2 separate regions of the Homo sapiens genome follow, and region 1 is linked to region 2. The links come from fine-mapping of genetic effects on plasma protein levels. Region 2 holds a variant in brackets. A gene starts in the other region. All regions are shown on one strand. Distances are from middle to middle.

Evidence for each region. A credible set is the group of variants that fine-mapping cannot tell apart. PIP is the chance, under the fine-mapping model, that this variant and not a neighbour inherited with it causes the effect. Protein levels are from antibody-based Olink assays in UK Biobank. Linkage for the fine-mapping came from a reference panel and not from the study's own genotypes, which makes the PIPs less certain.
Region 1: it holds the start of CD1C, and the variant in region 2 is the best candidate, but not a certain one, in a credible set for the plasma level of the CD1C protein (UK Biobank, PIP 0.58).

What each region holds. Positions count from the first base shown.
Region 1 is chr1:158,285,911-158,297,538 of GRCh38, forward strand. CD1C (CD1c molecule) reads left to right here and starts at 4,013. Exons shown (of 6, transcript NM_001765.3): 1 at 4,013-4,215; 2 at 5,224-5,490; 3 at 6,174-6,455; 4 at 6,686-6,964; 5 at 7,302-7,392; 6 at 7,545-8,864. The coding sequence starts at 4,155. The coding sequence ends at 7,566. It also overlaps a transcript of CD1B not described here. RefSeq lists an enhancer at 934-1,063.
Region 2 is chr1:59,621,145-59,629,144 of GRCh38, forward strand. FGGY (FGGY carbohydrate kinase domain containing) reads left to right here. Exons shown (of 16, transcript NM_018291.5): 10 at 4,844-4,905. Among named protein-coding and RNA genes, the nearest start is that of MIR4711, 110 kb to the right of the region's middle. The variant G/T (reference allele first, on the strand shown) is at 4,352.

The sequences.
Region 1 (11,628 bases), 99 Mb after region 2:
TGTGGGGTTTCCGTAATGGGGAAGTAGGCAGAGGGCAAGGTTTCTGCTGGGAGGAAGGGATGACAGAGCTGTGTGGGGTGGGAACATGACACTGGAGTTCTGAGGAAATCTCTCTCTCTCTCGGGGTGCAAAAGTCACCCACTAGAGTGGTCTTAGGGAAGTGACAGGCAAGAAGAGCCCAGGCGAAGGCAAACACAACAACGTCTGTGGTCTGAGCAAAAGGACAAGAAAAGGGAAGTTGGGGAAGGACAGGAAGAGCACTGGGCTCCCTCGGGACAACCCAGCCCCTCTGTTCAGGCTGGGTTCTAATCATAGGGTGTCCTACCCACTTCAGATTATTCTCTTAGGATTTTGTGTGTTCAGAGAGCTTAATAACCACTTACTCCTCTCCCCATTGCATTTTATATCAATTTCAGATTCTTGCATCTATATTTATAAGTATTCACCAGTGTAAAGAGTCTGCCAGTTTCCCTTCTTACACTACCTCCACCCTTCCTTTTTAGGGATAGATGTACATAAACTCTTGTGTATAAAATTGTCATACTTAGGAGTCTGGGTTATTTTTCATGAAAGCAATTTGAATATTTTAGGCTGATAGACATTCTAAGGATCACGTTTTCCATGGCAGCTCTGGGGCAGAGCACTGCATGGACATGGAGGGATATGGACTGTGACACACCGGCAGGGACTGTGGCTGTGATCTCTGTCCCACAGGATGAAAGCAGGACTACATATCAGTCAGATCAGAGAGGAAAAACCAGGTGGAGGGAGAGAAATGACATGGTGACTGTGTGGAGCAAAGGAGAGGGAAGTTTTCGGAGAACACACATTTCTAGGTATCTATTTGAATGCGTATTGCCATGATGGGGGTGAGGGTGTTACTTACTCTTCTAGGCACCCTGAGGGGGAATTTCCCATAAATACTTTTTGTTTTTTTTTCCTCACCCCTTAATCTTTCCTCTGAAAACAGACTGATTTATCTCACTGATAAATTCAGGAGGGAAACTGGGCAAGTATATATCAGCACCTCCTACTGCCCTTTACCTCTCTGGGCAAGTTGCTCCCCAAAGGCTCAGTCTTGCTCTCCTCCTCCAGGCCCTGGCTCTCACAGGAACAGCTGCTCAGGTGGGGAACTTAGGGTTTTATCAGCATTGCCTGAAATAAGTGAGTGTATTAGTCTTCTTGGGCTGTGCTAACACAAGGCAATCAGCTGGGTGGCTTAAACAACAGGAAGTTATTCTCTCACAGCTCTAGAGGCTAGAAGTTCAAAGTCTCCATCTGGAAGACTCAGTTTCTAGTGAAGGTTCTCTTCCTGGTTTATACAGACAACTGCCTTCTCACTATGAGCTCATATGGCCTTTCCATGGTGGGTGCACACACACACACACACACAGAGACAGAGAGCGACAGGGAGAGACAGAGAGACAGAGAAGGAAAGTGGAAGGGCACTCCAGTGTCTCTTCTTATAAGGACACTAAGCCTATTGGATCAGGGTCTTACCGTTTAGACATGAGATTGACATTACTTCTTAGAGGCCCCATTTCCAAATATAATCACACTGAGAGTTAGGGATTCAACATGTGATTTTTTTTTTCTTTGGGAGGGTACACAAACTTTCAGTCCATAACAATGAGAAGGCCACTCCATTTAGGGTCCAGTATGAGCAAGATCACTTGGATTACACACTTAAAGCAAATTATCTAGTGGCACTATCAGAAGTCAAGATTGACCATTAGATCCATCTATCTCATGTTATTTTCAACTTGTTTGCTTCTGAATTCAAGAGGGCAAAAAGGATGATACTTACTGGGTTTTATAATATTATCCAATATAGCTAGGTTATGTTGCAGTTATAAATAAACTTTAGAACTTGGAGGCTTAACACAATGAAGTTTATTTCTCATGCAGTTAAACTGCATGTAGATCAGGCTGCTCTTCTCCATCTCATAGTCTTGCCATTTAGAAATTTGACTGCCAAGTTGGTACCACAGGGTAAGATGATCAGATGTGATATTTTCAGTGGTCAGGACTGGAGCTGGCTAATGCTTCCAACACCACACATTCCATTGCCCAGAACTCAGTCCATGACCTTAACCCAACTATTAGGAAATAGGACAGTTGCATCTTTCCTGTAGGAACATGGAAAAAAATGTGAATAAACACATAATGTGGTATCTACTATTGTTTTCTAAAACCACAAACCAAGTATTTGCCATTAACAGCACAAGATGAGCAAAGATAACACCTAGTGCTTATGAATGATTTGGGTAGGATTTGAACTGGGTATTGCTCTTAAAGATATTATAGTTCATAGAAATTGCCACATATCTGTGGCCATGATAGGAAGAGCTCATTGAGAATGACTTCTGGCCTCACTATTAACGTTGACAAACCTAAGAAATAGTGTATATATCAAAGTATCATGTTGTACACAGTAAATACATAGAATAAATATAAATTTAAAACAGAAACAATGTTACAAATGGGATTTTCCTTTTTAAGGCACGGTCTTGCTCTGTTACCCAGGCTGGAGTACAGTGACATGAACATGGCTCACTACAGCCCTGACTTTCAGGGCTCAAAAGATCTTCCTGCCTCTGCCTCCCATTTAGCTGGGACTACAGGCATGTGCCACCACATTTGGCCAACTTTTTAATTTTTTTATCGAGATGAGGTCTAACTTTGTTGCCCAGGCTGGTCTCAAACTCCTGGGCTCAAGTGATCTTCCCACCTTGGTCTCCCAAAGTGCTGGGATTACAGGCATGAGTCATTGTGCCTAGCACAAATTCATGCCCAGATTTTAAGTGACTGCTCCAATGCATTCAGTGAATAATTAATATGATTTAAGAAACACTATAATAATAAATGTATTTCCTGGATCTCAAAAAAACTGTGTTCATGTATTTACACATATTAACCAGCCAGGGTCACTGATAAGTCACTGAATACTTCATATAAACTACTTAAATCAAACATTGACAAATGCTGCCCTTTTTATACAATGTGTTTTGGTCAGATCACAAAACAACTTAAATTTGGATTTTTGTGGTCTCCCCATGTATGAGTCCTCTTGAAAAGCTGCATGTTCTGACTATCACAATCGTATACCATTCCACACTGTACAGAATTTTCAGTATTTAGTTGAGATGCATGCTGTTCTTCCAGGACTTCAAATTATGAACTTCCCAGGGGGTTAGTCAGTCAAAATGCTGCTCTAGAGAATATAGTTCTAAGTAGATTTGTATCTGGGATTCTATACATTGAAATTAAAATCACAATGCATTTTAATTTTTTGTTTAAACATCTGCAGTTTAAAACTCTTTGATAGAAGAGATTACATTGTTAACCTCTGTGTGTTTATATGCCTAGTAAGACACTGGTATCAACCATGTACTATGTAATTTTTTAGTGAATGACTATACAGATTAAATGCAGTAGAAGGGCTTCTTTATATTTGTTATGGTCCTATGCATTCTGAATGGCTGCAATTTAATCTCTAAGGATAATGTAGAGTGGACTGTAGTTTATATAATTGTGCAGGGAAATCTTGGAAGATGTAAAAAGCAACGTCTCCAATTTATAAAAGAATCAGTGAGAATGAGGAAATAAGAAAGATGGGTGAAAAGAGGTGAAATTGGAAAGAGAAAACTTTGAGGACATTCAAAAGGGGGAAAGAAAGAATGGAGTGATGAGAAGAGGGGACACTATGGAGAGTGGAGGCAAAGTTAAGTGGAGAAACTGGAAGAACTGTGATCTATTAAAACAAGCAGGAACTGAAAAAATGACATGGTTTCTCCTTTTTATCTTACAAATGACATGCAAAATCCAGAGGGACAAAATGACCTTTCTTTCAATGCCATACACCACTTTGTCTAAGGCAGTTGAGGAAGGGAAGTAGATATAATGGAGCTTAGTGGCAGAGCAGCTGGAATCCTGAGAGAAGAGAATAACTTTAGTTCAGAGCAGGTGGGGAAATGAGAGATTGAGTAGGAGGACCAAGGTTGAGGGAAGCAGATCTTCTTAGTTGCTGTCAGCGGCTGATGGGGAAGATTGTTGGTAGAAGGAAGTCAGAATATAGGTACAGAGGGATAAGTTTGCTAAGAACAGAGATCAGCAAACAGCTTTTCTGAGAGAAAGAAACATCTGCAAATGACATGCTGTTTCTGCAGTTTCTGCTGCTAGCTCTTCTTCTCCCAGGTGGTGACAATGCAGACGGTAAGAACATCGCTGTCAGCTGCAAGGTTACATGTATCTGGGTAGAGTGTGCTGGGCTTTCCCGAGATGGATCAATAGAGATGCCAGAATGCTTGCCATCTGAGCATACCTGTCTCCAGGTCCAGTTTACTCTTTTGGAGGATGGTGGCAGAGCATGGGCTCTGTGTAAGGAAAATGTTATAGCTAAAGTAGTCATTAATGTTTCTCTGTGGTAACTGGTTCAATTTCCATTTCCTCTCCATTTTCCGTTAAAACAATCAGGGCCCAGGAAAATGATGTGGTTTCTCCTTTTTATGTTACAAATGACACGCAAGGTCCAGAGGGATGAAGCAACCTTTCAATGCCACGCACCACTTTGTCTAAGGCAGTTGAGGAAGGGAAGTAGATAAGATGGAGCTTAGTGGGAGAGCAGCTAAAATCCTAAGGGAAGAGAGTAACTTTAGTTCAGAGCAGATGGGGAAATGAGAGATTGAGTAGGAGGCCTAAGGTTAAGGGAAGCAGATTGTCTTAGTTGCTGTCAGTGGCTGATGGGGAAGATTGTCTGTTGGTAGAAGGAAGTCAGAATATAGATGTAGAGGGATAAGTTTGCTAAGAACAGAGATCAGCAAATGGCTTTTCTGAGAGAAGGAAACAACTGCAAATGACATGCTGTTTCTGTAGTTTCCGCTGCTAGTTCTTCTCCTCCCCGGTGGTGACAATGCAGATAGTATGAACATCTCTGTCAGCTGCAAGGTTACATGTATCTGGGTTGAGCATGATGGGCTTTCCCAAGATGGATCAATGAAGAAGCCAGAATGGTTGCCATTTGAGCATACCTCTCTCCAGGTCCAGTTTACTCTTTTAGAGGATGGTGGCAGAGCATGGGGCTCTGTGTAAGGAAAATGGTATAGCTAAAGTAGTCATTAATGTTTCTCTGTGGTAACTGGTTCACCTTCCATTTTCTCTCCATTTTCCTTGCCTCTCTTTTTTTTTTTTTCCTTACACTACTTGCCCTTCTTCCACCAAAAGCATCCCAGGAACACGTCTCCTTCCATGTCATCCAGATCTTCTCATTTGTCAACCAATCCTGGGCACGAGGTCAGGGCTCAGGATGGCTGGACGAGTTGCAGACTCATGGCTGGGACAGTGAATCAGGCACAATAATTTTCCTGCATAACTGGTCCAAGGGCAACTTCAGCAATGAAGAGTTGTCAGACCTAGAGTTGTTATTTCGTTTCTACCTCTTTGGATTAACTCGGGAGATTCAAGACCATGCAAGTCAAGATTACTCGAAATGTAAGTTCAATCATCTAAATTATGGGAGTTCTTTAGAATGTTCTATTTCAGGGAAATATTCTCTACTAATTTTTGGGCCATTTCCCATTATCCCATCCCACCATAAAATTCTGCATAGATGAACCTTTTAAGGGATATTCCTGATGTTGACTCCCTCAAATTTCCTAGGCTCTTGCTATTTTTGGAATTTTTTTTCTTGTGCTTTGTTATCTTCCACCTGTGGTCTCCCTCTGTATCCTACAATCCAGAGATACACAGCTGTCCCACTCTGTGCTTGACTCCCTTAAAATAAAATCTATTCCCCCATTCAATTTCTTCAAAGATCTATGTCCACAGTTCAATGACCATTATGACCAATTTCATGCGTCATGGAATGCTATCCTCCTACCTCCCTCACAAAGGCTCCCCCTTCACCCTCTATCCTATATTATGTGGCTCACCTATCATTTTTCCACATCTTCCTTGGCCACTTTTTCTTGTTAATTCAAGGCATTTATCTCTTATTGTCCCCTTCCCTATCCCCAGCAATTTTTCTCTCTTGTTTCTGATCAAATATGTCTTTGGCTCACTCTCACATCCATGTAAAACTTTCTTGCTTCACTTCCTGATACAGCCCTAGGTTTTTATACTGTTGTTTTCACTTTTTTGTTTGAACTCTTTTTCTCATTCCTCCCTTCCTCCAGATCCCTTTGAAGTACAGGTGAAAGCGGGCTGTGAGCTGCATTCTGGAAAGAGCCCAGAAGGCTTCTTTCAGGTAGCTTTCAACGGATTAGATTTACTGAGTTTCCAGAATACAACATGGGTGCCATCTCCAGGCTGTGGAAGTTTGGCCCAAAGTGTCTGTCATCTACTCAATCATCAGTATGAAGGCGTCACAGAAACAGTGTATAATCTCATAAGAAGCACTTGCCCCCGATTTCTCTTGGGTCTCCTGGATGCAGGGAAGATGTATGTACACAGGCAAGGTCAGTAGTTTCAGCCCCTTCCTCTAAGATTTTTCTATTCAAGTACTGCCCCTTCTGTTCCCACCCTTCAAACTCAGGACAAGAAAGAGGACAAGAAGCAGGGGGGTTGCTGGGTAATAGTTTCTTAGAGGCAGGAAAAAGATAACTGTGCATATTCATGTGGATGTGTGTATGTGGATGTAAGTTGTGTGTAAGTTTCTTCATCAGAACACTTTTTCTGCTCTCTGCAGTGAGGCCAGAAGCCTGGCTGTCCAGTCGCCCCAGCCTTGGGTCTGGCCAGCTGTTGCTGGTTTGTCATGCCTCCGGCTTCTACCCAAAGCCTGTTTGGGTGACATGGATGCGGAATGAACAGGAGCAACTGGGCACTAAACATGGTGATATTCTTCCTAATGCTGATGGGACATGGTATCTTCAGGTGATCCTGGAGGTGGCATCTGAGGAGCCTGCTGGCCTGTCTTGTCGAGTGAGACACAGCAGTCTAGGAGGCCAGGACATCATCCTCTACTGGGGTAAGACTGGAGGTTGGAAGTGTAGGTAGGTGGTTCTTGAGCCTAGAGGTTAGGGGAGAGGAAATTTTGAGGATAGCAGACCTAGGTGAGGGATTGTAGGAAGAAATGTATAGGGTAATTTAAAGAATAGTGGAGTAAGACCTAAGGGATACATGGATACTAGAGATTTAAGGGGAAATGAGGAATCCTTCCTTGAGTAAGTTTTGGAATAGAGTGACTGAAATAGGATAACTGATGCAACTCATCCAATGCATATGTTAAGTAAGGAAATCAATAGATGGAATAGAATCAGCAGTGAGTTTAAAATGGCATCCATGTATCTTTCCAATATGTGCAGGACACCACTTTTCCATGAATTGGATTGCCTTGGTAGTGATAGTGCCCTTGGTGATTCTAATAGTCCTTGTGTTATGGTTTAAGAAGCACTGGTGAGTTTTTTGTATTTCCTCCTCTCCTCCCAGTTTCTTATTTCACATTCCATTTTTCACTCTCTTAGCTTTTCTCTATTGACTACTCCACCTTATCCTCAGTTACCACCTCCAACTTATTCAGGGTTTCTCCCATTCCTGTTCCTTCACAGCTCATATCAGGACATCCTGTGAGACTCTTCCCCCTGACTCCCCCATTGTGTTAAGAACCCAGCAACCCAGGAGCCTAGTACAATATAGTGATGCCATCCCGTCGACTCTCCATTTAAATTGTTTCTCTTTCTGCATAATAAACATTTGTTAATAAAAACCAAATTCTAATTTGGAATGTTTTTCTTGGAATCTCCACTTTTTATATAGCACTCAACCTTCAAAGCCCATTTCTGATGTCATTTCCTCCAACGATCTTCCTTGACCCATACTGAACCCAGAGAGCCCCTCAACTGTTATGTGCATGCAACACTTCCTACCCTGTGTTGCAGCTACTTGAGTCTTTCATTTCACATTTTTAAGCTTTTAGGAGGCAAGGATCATGATAAATGTGCCTTTCCTGCATATGATAGGCTCAGTGAAACACAAAACAAAACATCATATCTAAGTTGGATTAACTGTCATGTTGACAATTTTTCTCATTATATTCCTTCCCAATGTTGTTGTAGCATTGGAAATATTCATGCTTCTCTTTTTGTTTAAATGCTTCATACCTAGCAGATAAATTCCACTCTCCTTTAGCTCCCTCATTTTCTCCTTAAACATTTAAGGAAAAGTGCAGCCTTGTGCCTTGATACACTTATTTTCTAAACACAGAGAATTACAAATGCAAATAGACAGAGAGTGTGCAAGTTACATGTGATGATCAGTGGTGCAGATATGTCACAGAATACTTAAGAAAAGGAACAAGAGATTTGGTCCTCAGGGTTGGAGTGGGATCAAGGCAACCGTTGTGCTGTATATGGAAGACAAATTTCCTAAAGGACTGTGTTATCTGAGATAGCCTTGGCTAAACTTTAGTCCCTTTAGGTTTCATTCACTAATTCAACTAATATTTTTTGGGTACTGAGTTGAGACAGGCACATACAGCTTCTAAACTGGTGGTGGATAAAACAAATGAGATTGTGTCCACTCTCCTGAAGTTGCAATGTTTGCTTCCTCAATCTGTCCATGTTTCTTTTCTATTGTTTTCATGTTTTTATTTATTTCAAAAAATTTTAAATAGATTTTATTGATGTATAATTTATAGTAAAATTTGAATCTTTAAGTGTACAGTTCTATTTATTTTGATAATTATATAAGCCCATGTAAACAAAATCACAATCAAGATATTAAATGTCATAACCCCTCATACCTGTTTGTAGTCAAGCACACCAACAACCTGGCATTCTTGCAACTACTGATATACTTTATGTCACTTAAGCTTAAACTTGTATTTTCTATGATTTTATTAAGATGGAAATAAACATATCTACTTGGTATTGCCTTTTATTTTTCTTCAGTTTAGCATATGGTTGTAAGTAATCCATGCTGCTCAGTGTATTAGTAACCATTCCTTTTCATTGCTGAATAGAATTCCATGTATGAATATAACTTTTTTTGGAGGAGGAGGTGGCTTCCCAGATCTGGCAGGGCCTTTGTCTCCTTGTGCCCACTCACCCAGCTTGGGTCCTGCTTCCATTGCTCATTTCCTTGGCACCAGGAGGCCCTAGGTGACTCTCCTGCACCCTTAGTCACCCTGTGACCTGCAGATACAGAGAGATCAATAGAGAGGATTCTAGGACACCCAGGAAACTGGGAAATAAAGCCAAAAATATATAAAATTAAACTTATTTTTGGGAGAAGAGACAAGATGGCTGACTAGATGCAGCCAGGAAGAGCTTCTCCCACCAAGAGACAAGACCATCAAGAAGAGCAGTATACTCTGAGAAGATCATTGGAAAGAAGGCATTGAGAGTGGATGGAGGGAGAATGCAGACCCTGGGCTGAAGGGGGGAAGAAGCTGCGAACCCTACACAGGGTTGCCAAACACTAGGACTTATTCTTGGTCCTCAGTGGCTTCTAGGGAAGGGGTTGGTTAAATAGGCATGAAGTGGCCCACTCTATCCATGAACCTCTGGAATCCTAGCTGCAGGAGACCCCCACGACCCACACAGACATTTGAGTTGGCAGGGAAAGCTACTTGCAGAGTTGGCAGGGACAGGACTCCAGCTTCTATGGAACCCAGAGGGTTTGGTGTGAGAACAGCTACAGTGGAGCATGGTTAGGGATGTCCATTACCCGAGGATTGGCATGCTCCTCTAGGTGGCTTTGACCCCTTTGTTGACTATCAGACCTGGACAGAATAGGGCTACCATGATATTTGGATGGGGCTAGACTGATCTGAGCCCCCCACCCCATGTCTGCTGGCCTCTCCCAGGATCCCTGCCTGTCTGTACCTGCTTGCAGCACAGCCTCAGATGTTCAACTGAGGCAGTTCTCAGAGACCACTGCCATAGGTCTTTCACTGGCTGACCCCACCAAACCACCAAATAGCTTCTGTCACTGGCCTCACATCAGCATGCACCTGCCTTCAGCACCCACAACTGCTTTGCTGGCATACATACACAGACATCACTGCCTTGCTACCACTTCTGTGCACATATGCATGGAGACCTCACCACTGCTGCACTGTCCCCACTAGCCTACATGCGTGCATGTACCCTGCCACACTACCATCCCTGGTGTACATGTGCATGGACCTTCTACCCTGCTGCCCCACCACCACCAGCATGTGAGTGAGTGTGGACCCCACCATGCCACTGCCCCACTGCTGCCAGTACATGCATGTGAGAGCAGACCCCCACCGCCACTGCCCTTATGAAATGCTTTTCTGGGACCCCCCCACCCTGCCCACCATAGGAGTGTTGTTGCTAGTGGACTGGGAGCACCTTGGCCCCCTCCAGTGAAGCAGGTGCTCAGTCTCAAGGGGCCAAAGAACAAGGTTCTGGGCCTGGTCCCAGGCCCTCAGTCTTAGAGCATATAGCCCAGGAGTGCTGAGCTGAGCCATGGCCCCCTGAAATCATCAAGAAATAAAGCTAGCTCACTGACCCAAACCTATACCATAGTCAAAGCCTCAAGGGCATCAAAGAATATAAAAGCAAAAGGCCCCATCAAAAGGACAGCAACTTTAAACGTTTAAGGAACATCAGCCCACATAGATGAGAAAGAACCCGTGGAAGAACTCAGGCAGCTCTAAAAGTCAGAGTGTCTTCTTACTTCCAAATGAACACACTAGCTCCCCAACAATCTTTCCTAACCAGACTAAAATGGCTGAGATAATAGACATAGATTTTAGAATCTGGATGGCAATGAAAATCATGAGATTCAGGAGAAAGTTGAAATGGAATCCAAAGAATTTAAGGAATCCAGTAAAATAATACAATAACTGAAAGACAAAATAGCCATTTTAAGAAAGAACTAAGCTGATTTGACAGAGCTAAAAAATTCACTAAAGAATTTTATAATACAATTGGAAGTATTAAAGGCAGAATAGACCACACTGAGGGAAGAATCTCAGAGCTCAAAGACCAGTTCTTCTAATTAACTCAGTCACACAAAATAAAGAAAAAATAATACAGAAGGATGAACAAAATCTCTGAGAAATATGAGGTTATGTAAAGAGACCAAACCTGTACTCACTGATGTCCCTGAAAGAGAGAGAGAGAGAGTGTGCAAACAATTGAAAACATATATGAGGATATTGTCCATGACAATTTTCTCAACTTCACTATAGAGGTCAACATTCAAATTCAAGAAATTCAGAGAACTCCTGAGAGATACTACACTAGAAAACCATCCTCAAGATACACAATAATAAGATTATCCAAGGTCAATGTGAAAGAAAAAAATACTAAAGGCAACCAGAGAGGAGGAGCAGGTCACCTACAAAGGGACCCCAATCAAGCTAACAGCATACCTTTCAGCAGAAACCTTAGAAGCCAGAAGACATTGAGGGCCTATATTCAGCATTGTTAAAGAAAAGAAATTCTGACCCAAAATTTCATATCCAGCCCAAGTAAGATTTATATGTTAAAGAGAAATTCAGCAAAGCAAATGCTAAGGAAATTTATTACCACCAGACCTGCCTTATAAGAAGTCATTAAGGGAGTGCTAAACATGGAAATAAAAGACTCTTACCAGCCACCACATAAATGCACTTAAGTAAACAGACCAGTGACACTATAAAGGAACTACACAATTAAG
Region 2 (8,000 bases):
TAAGAACACCAGTTATATCAGATTAAGGCCCCACTGTCATGAGCTGTTTAACCTTAATTACCCCCGTAAGAGCCATATCTCTAAATACAGTCACATTTGGGATTGAGGCTTCAATATATGAATTTGAGGTGAACACAGTTTAGTCCATGTCAAAGATACATAAATGTTTTAAAGAAATTCTGAGAAATAAACCATAGTCTTTTGTATTTACCTACATAATTACTATTTTTATTGCTTTTCCTTTCTTTCTGAAAATTTGAGTTTCCATGTGATATCTTTTCCCAAGCCTAAAGAACTTGTCTTAGCCTCCGTCTCAAAAAAAAAAAAAAAAAAAAAGAACTTGTCTTAGCATGTCTTACAGTGCAGGTCAACTGGCAAAAGACATTCTCTCTATTTTTTTTCAATGCATTTATTTTATATGCTGCCTTGAAAGATATTTTTGCTCACTATAGAATTCTTGATTTACAGGTTTTTTTTTCCATCAGCACCTTAAAATGTTAGTATTTTCTATTCTGACATTATTATTTCTTATAAGAAGTCAACCATTATTTTTGTCATTCTTTCCCTTTATATAATATGTCATTTTTTTCCTCTGGCTGCTTTCAAATTTTCTCTTAATCTTTGGCTTTTATTACGGTATGGCGTGGTCTTCTTTGGATTCATCTTTCTTGAATTTGTAAGTTGATTCCTTTCACCAAGTTTGGGAAATTTTCAGCATTTAATTTTTTTTTGTTTGTTTCTTCTCCTTGCTCTCTTCCCTCTTACTGTGACTCCAATTCCACATATATGGTACCTTTGGCTATTGTCTCCCATGCCCCTGAGAGACTCAGGGTGTTAATTTTTTCAATATATATTCTCATTCATATTCTCTCTCTCTCTTTCTCTCTCTCTAAGTCTCCCAGTCTAAGTCTCATTCTCACGAGGACACTTTTGTTGGTCATCTCCAATCAGCTCTTAGGCCCATCTACTATATATTTATTTCAGATATTGTATTTAATCAATACTATTACATTTGTATTTTAATAGTTTGTTTCTTTGCTGTTTCCTCTCTGTTTAATAACTATGAGAATATTTTTCTTTTACATCCTTAAGCATTGTTAAAATACCTACTTTAAAATTCTTATCTTCTAACGCCTGTGTCACCTCAGATTTGGTGTTCACTAAGTGGCTTTTCTCTTAAGTATGGATTACATTTTCCTGTTCCTCAATATGTATAATGATTTGGGGTCATATTTTGGACATTGTGATTGATATATTCTAGAGACACTGTATTATTTCTGTTTCTCTTTTGAGTATTGATTTTTTGGTTTAGCAGGCAGTTTATTTGGCTGAACTCAAACTTCAAGTTTTGTTACTCTCCTGTGATGAACATGTCCTAAAATCTCTGTTGCATTATTTTAGCCTTAGCTGGACTACTTCTGGTGTTCCCATGCACATGTAATTGAGAGATCATCCAGAAATTAGGGTAGCATTTATAGGCACAGTGTTGCATTCCCTTTCTATGGCTCTCTCTTTCTGACATCCCCTCCACAACTTACTTCCTAGCTACTATGGTTGCCTTGAACTCTAACCTCTCATTTCTTAATCAGAAAGACTGTGTATTTCTATCTGAGTATTAGTTATCTTGCATGCCACTGACTGGGGTCCACCCATGGGCAAAAATGTATAAAATCAGGAAACACACAAAGTACTGTTTTTTCCTTCCTTGTGTCTACTCCTCTCCAGTTTCTACCTGGTTTTGGCCACTTTCCAGTGTCTTCAGAGAACTATTTGCTGTATTTTGATCAGCATTTTTAATTGTTATCAAAATGTGTCTCATCATTCATTCATTAGAGATGTCAGCATTGCTCTAGGCACTGAGGAGTGGAAAATAATGATGCTCTTGCTTTGAAAGAGCTCAGAGTATAGGGTAAGAGACAGACATATAACTAAGGATTGTAAAAGAACTTGATAGATGCTACAGTAGAGTAAGGATAGAAAATATCTGTGCCTTATATTCCCATTGCCAACCTGTGATCTTTGTCTGCATTTCCTATTCTCCATGCCTGGTCATCTCCCTGTCCTTTATACATTACCAAATTTTTCTTAACTTTTCATCATTTTTCTCTCCAAATCAAAATAATTTTTATGGCCTTTGATCTAATAAAAGTATAAACTCTTATGACATTCAAGACACACTGTCTGCCTTCGCCCTCTTTATTCATCCTTATTTTCACCAGTTTACTAATTCTGTAATTTAACCTACAGTAATCCTATGACCAATGTATGCACAACACAAATAGATACAAATGCAAAGTGTGGTAAGTGCCACCAAGGAGAAGTACATGGTGCTATCTGTGTTTTTCCTGTGGTTCACTCATCCCACATTTATTCCACAAACTTTTATTAACCACCCATGTTATGCCAGGCATGAGGCTAAACCAGTCCGTTACCATTCAAATCATATATGTCTTTCCATTTTCATGTCTCTACTAACCAGCCTCCTTTCTGTCATGCCTTGCCTCTAGCCCTTTACTCCTCCAAACTCTACCTATTTATGGCCTCTCAGCTGAAGCTTCACCTACTCCAACTGTATAATGATTGCCAAATGATTGATCTCTCACTTTGTGCTGCTATGCATCATAACTATTTCTTATTTTTCAGTGTATCTCCGGAACCTAGGTGCACAGTTCCTGGAGGCACATTAGGCATTTAGTAAATACTAAATAACTGCATTCATGCTTACACCACACATGCTAGGTTCTAGCTCACTCCTGGAAGCTCATTTAAATCTCTCTTCTCTGAACTCCTAAAGCACTTCCCATAAAAATTAGCATCAAATCAAGTAATGCCTCTAATTATCCATTACTGTTCCCAGCGAGTTTATCTTGATGCTCTCAGTGGATTGCAAACTCAGGGGATCCAAAGTGTGATGAGGATATGCTTCATCACAGTAATGCAAAGTTGAACCTGAAGGAGATAAATATTCAATAACTGCATGAGTTTTTTTTTTTCATTGAAATGACCAATGTCTTTGATATCATTTTGAAACATTTCCACAAAAACTGCACCAATGGTATTCAACAACGTATACCTGGAAGTTCAGTAGACAATATGACGTGGTGGTTAAGAACAAGGTCTTAAAATATAGAGACTGCAGTTTGAGACCTAGATTTGTCGTTACTTTACTGTGACCTTGGGCAAGATATTCAATCTCTTTGAGCTCAGTTTCCTCATCTCCATAATGAAGAATAGTATCTTCTCCATAGGAGTGCTATAAGGAATAAATGAAATAGAGTAATGTGTGTACAATGCTTAAGTTAGTACTGATGTATGGGAAATGAGTCAGTATATTTCACGTGATATCATTTATACTACTGTTGGCACTATAGTAGTGTATTAGTCCGTTTTCATACTGCTGATACGGACATACCTGAGACTGGGTAATTTATACAGAAAAAGAGGTGTAATGGACCCATAGTTCCACATGGCTGGGGAGGCGTCACAATCATAGCAGAAGGCGAAAGGCATGTCTAACATGGCGGCAGGCAAGAGGGAATGAGAGCCAAGTAAAACAGGAAACCCCTTATGAAACCATCAAATCTCATGAGACTTATTCACTACTACGAAACAGTATGGGGGAAACTGCGCCCATGATTCAGTTGTTTCCCACTGGGTCCCTCCCACAACATGTGAGATTTATGGGAGTTACAATTCAAGATGAGATTTTGGTGGGGACACAGACAAACCATATCAAGCAGACACACTTAACTTCCTAGAAATCCTGTTTAAAAGGAGGCCATGGAAGTTCAAAACAGTTTAGTGACTTGCACAAAGTCACTCAGCTAGTGAGACTCAGAGCCAGAACCCAACCCTGGCCTCTGTGTCTCCTGAACAAATTATCTTCTTTACACAGCCCTAGCTCTCAGGAAACATGCTCAGAGAGCCTATCCCTGTGCAGCCAAAAGACCAAATCTTTTCCTTGTTGGAATGAAAATAAATCTATCAGAATGGTTGTTTTAGCATCCTAGAAACTCAAGTAAACATTCAGAAAATATACAGATGAGGTTCAGGAACTCAAGCACGGTGTTGCTTGGGTGTGTTATGGCAAGCAGAGTAAATGCATGGAGAAACATTTCTGTCCCTGATACATATTTCATACTATTTTGTTTAGAGCCACCAAGTGGATTAAGGAATAAGATCCTAGACCTGGGATTTCAAATGAGAGGTGATTATCTGCAGAGCTCAGACATTTCTGTCCTTGGAGAGCTGTGTTTCCCATGTGATGATTGTTCAGTCAGGAGAGTTTCTCCTGACAGGTCTGGGGCATCTCAATTTTTTTTAACTGAGAGTTTCAAAAAATTTTTTTAAT[G/T]AGGGTTTTTTCAAAAACCCTCATCATAGTCTCTTTCATTCAGCTTCTCCATTAGTAAGACACAGTGAGTAATTCAAGGTTTGACATTGCCCAGGGATGACAGCCTAGATCAAGAAGGGGAAATGATGTGATCCAGAAAAGGTTGGTGCTTTTAACACTCAGACCCCCCCCATTTGACATAAGTTACCCTTCCTTCTCATTCTTGGGCCTGTTGCTAACCTGCTTCTACCAGTTTAGCCTTGGAAATTTCATTTCTGTTTACTCTTCTCTCTAAACTTCTTTGTTTTATGTATTTAAGAGGCTAGCAGTAGGTTAAATCAAAGCTAAATTTCTTTTAGCTGAGGCACTCTTGCTACATTGGCATTTTAATGTTCTTGGAACCCGTATGGACAAAGAGTTGAAAGAAACATATACTCATTTTAATATAAATTTTTCTATCTTATACATAAATTAAAGAAGCTATAAAATTGACCCATGTCTCTTATTTTTCAGATAGACCACATGGTACAAGGCCATGCTGCTTTTCCAGAACTACAAGTAAAGGCCACAGCCAGGTAACTGCTGTCTCTGTTCCCTCTAAAATTTTCCTTGTGTGACTGTATTGAGAGAATTCACGTTGGGCAGTTGGGTGATTTTCAGATCCTACAGACAATGAAAATGCCTGTTAGTGCTTGAAAGATAGTCACCTGGATGATCCAGAAGATAGATGTATTAATTCTTTAAATGAGGTAAGAGAACTTAGAGAACCTAGAGATACCCCAAGAATATACCCAGGGACTATAGATAAGAAACTCTGATGTAGAAGAAGGACCATGGATTCTGGAGTCAAAACTTCTTAGTTTCACATCCCAGCCATACTCCTTAATAGATACAGGACCTTGAGCTAGTTACTTAACCTCTTTATGCCTGTCTCTTCATCTGTAAAACTGAAGATAATAACTGATATGGAGTGATTTCTAGAATATTTTGAAGCAAGCTGAGTGCAAAAAAAATTTACGATATACTCCCTTTCATGTAAAAAGAAAGACATAGGAAAATACATGTGTATCTGTTCATTTTTGCAAAAGAAATATAGGAAGTGGCCAGGTGCGGTGGCTCACTCCTGTAACCCCAGCACCTTGGGAGGCCGAGGCGGGCAGATCACGAGTTCAGAGATCGAGACCAGCCTGGCCAACATGGTGAAACCCCATCTCTACTAAAAATACAAAAGTTAGCCGGGCATGGTGATGTATGCCTATAATCCCAGTTACTTGGGAGGTTGAGGCAGGAGAATTGCTCAAACCCGGGAGGTGGAGGTTGCAGTGAGCAGAGATCGTGCCACTGCACTCCAGCCTGGGCAATAAAGTGAGACTCCGTCTCAAAAAAAAAAAAGAAATACAGGAAGTTTAAACCAGAAAATAATAAGATTAGTTACCTACAGGGGGTGGGTAGGAATGGGGTGGAAAGAATGTGGGAATGGGACCATGGTAGTAGGAAGAAATGACACTTCTCTGAGTATACCTTTTTATATAACTATAACTCTTAGAATTATTGTCATGCCTCATGTCCCTGATACCCCGATAAAATAGGTGATAGATAACCAGGATATATGTGTATGTTGGCATGGGCAAAATGAAATGCACACAGTAAAAACTGAACCTACTGTATTACAAAGGGGGTTGGGAAAAGAAAAGAAAGGAAAAGAAAAAAGAAAAGAACCTAAGTAAATTTGGGAAAGAATATTTTGACTATATGCCATATGGCTAAAGAGAAAAATAACCATACATAAATATTATACTCTAATTGGTAAATCTGTTTTTCATAGGTGTATATGTTAGCTATAGTGACAACTCTTTATGTGTATGCTACAGTTGAGTGAAGAAATCAATATATTGTGGATAATAAGAGCCAGGTTCCTCACAAATGGGAAAAGGAGAAGGTTAGAATGAACCTCATGGTGTCAATATCAACTTATGATTTTATATATATATATATATATATATATATATATATATACACACACACACACACACACAGCTGGATATAAATATAAGTAAATATAGATATGTATATTCATGCATGAATATACATGCATATACTCCCTAGGTCTCTCTGCTGAGATGGCTTGGAAGCAATGACACGATAGTAGCAATGTGTGTACCTAGCTCACAGGTACTGTATTCTAAGTACCATTCTCCCATTTCTCCAATAAAAGTAATCAGGACTTCTTAGAAAGATGGCTGAGTCTACGCTGCGGCAGTAAAATTATGGTGCCAGAAAGAAAAAAGTTACTCAACAAGGAATTGTCAAGGTACATTGGAACCAACTTTAAGAATCTCTCAGTGGCCTACTCAGGATAAAATAAACAGTAATAGCGTAAAGTAAGTCCATAAGTAAATAACTTTGTAAGTAAACTACTGAAGAAGGAAATAAACGAGGACGAAATGACAGGTCTTCCTCTTCACTGTCAGGACAGTAGCCTTACAATTAATAAATGTAGAAGAAATAATGGAAATAGATAATCAACATTAGGTAAACACTACAGAGATAAATGTTGTAGGCAAGAATCATTAATGGATGCTAAAATTAGTGAGTAAAAGTGGGAAGCAGGATATTTTCATAAACCCAGAGGATTTCAGTACAAGATACTGAGTAATAGGAAGAGGAAAATAATAACTTTCCAGTAGTATATAAGTATGGCAGACACCACCTTACCCAAGTGATGAAAGTAAACAACACCAGCAATAACATGTAGTGATATCATGTATCTCCTTTTATGAGGCACCGATAAAGATACAACATCATTTCTGCCATGTTCTTGCCCAAAATGATTAAACTCAGTGTAAATATGGGAAGCATCAGACAAACCTAGATTGACATTCCACAAAGCTATTAGCCAGTTTGCTCCAAAGGAAAATTAAGAAACTTAAATACTGAAGAACTGTCCTAGATTGGAGGAGACTTAAGGAGGTACTACAGCTGTAAGCAGTATATAATCATGGATTCAACTCTGGACCAGAGAAAGGACATTGGTGGAGGAAAACTGTTGAAATTCAAATAGAGATTAATAGTATTGTTATTTATGGCAATTTCTTAGGTGATGAGTAAAAGGGAACTCTGTGTATTATTTTTGTAACTTTTGTGTAAATCTAAAATTATTTTGAAATAAAAAGTCTAAAAAATAATGAATGGATTTTCATGCTGATAATGCTTAGTTGTCAGGCTGTTTAAGTAAAGTAAGATATTTTTATAGAATTATCAGAGAAACCCATGTAGCTAGCTAGCACAGGACAAAAGAGAGATAGTCTAAGGTGGCCACTAATAGACTCTGAAGCCAAATTGCCTTTGCCTCAGCTTTGTCGCTTATTCACTTTCTGTTTCTGGGCTATTTACTTAACCTCTGTGCCTTAGTACCTCACTGTAAAGGGAATAATAGTAAACATTTCATAAGGTTGTTGAGAAAATTAAATGAATTAGAATAATGGGTGATACAGAGTGATGATTAAGAGTCAGGCTGTAATAGGTGTTCAACTAAAAAAATGGTAATGATAAAAATTACTGTTGGGGAACATCACACACCGAGGCCTGTCGTGGGATGGGGGGATAGGGGAGGGATAGCATTAGGAGAAATACCTAATGTAAATGACGAGTTAACGGGTGCAGCAAACCA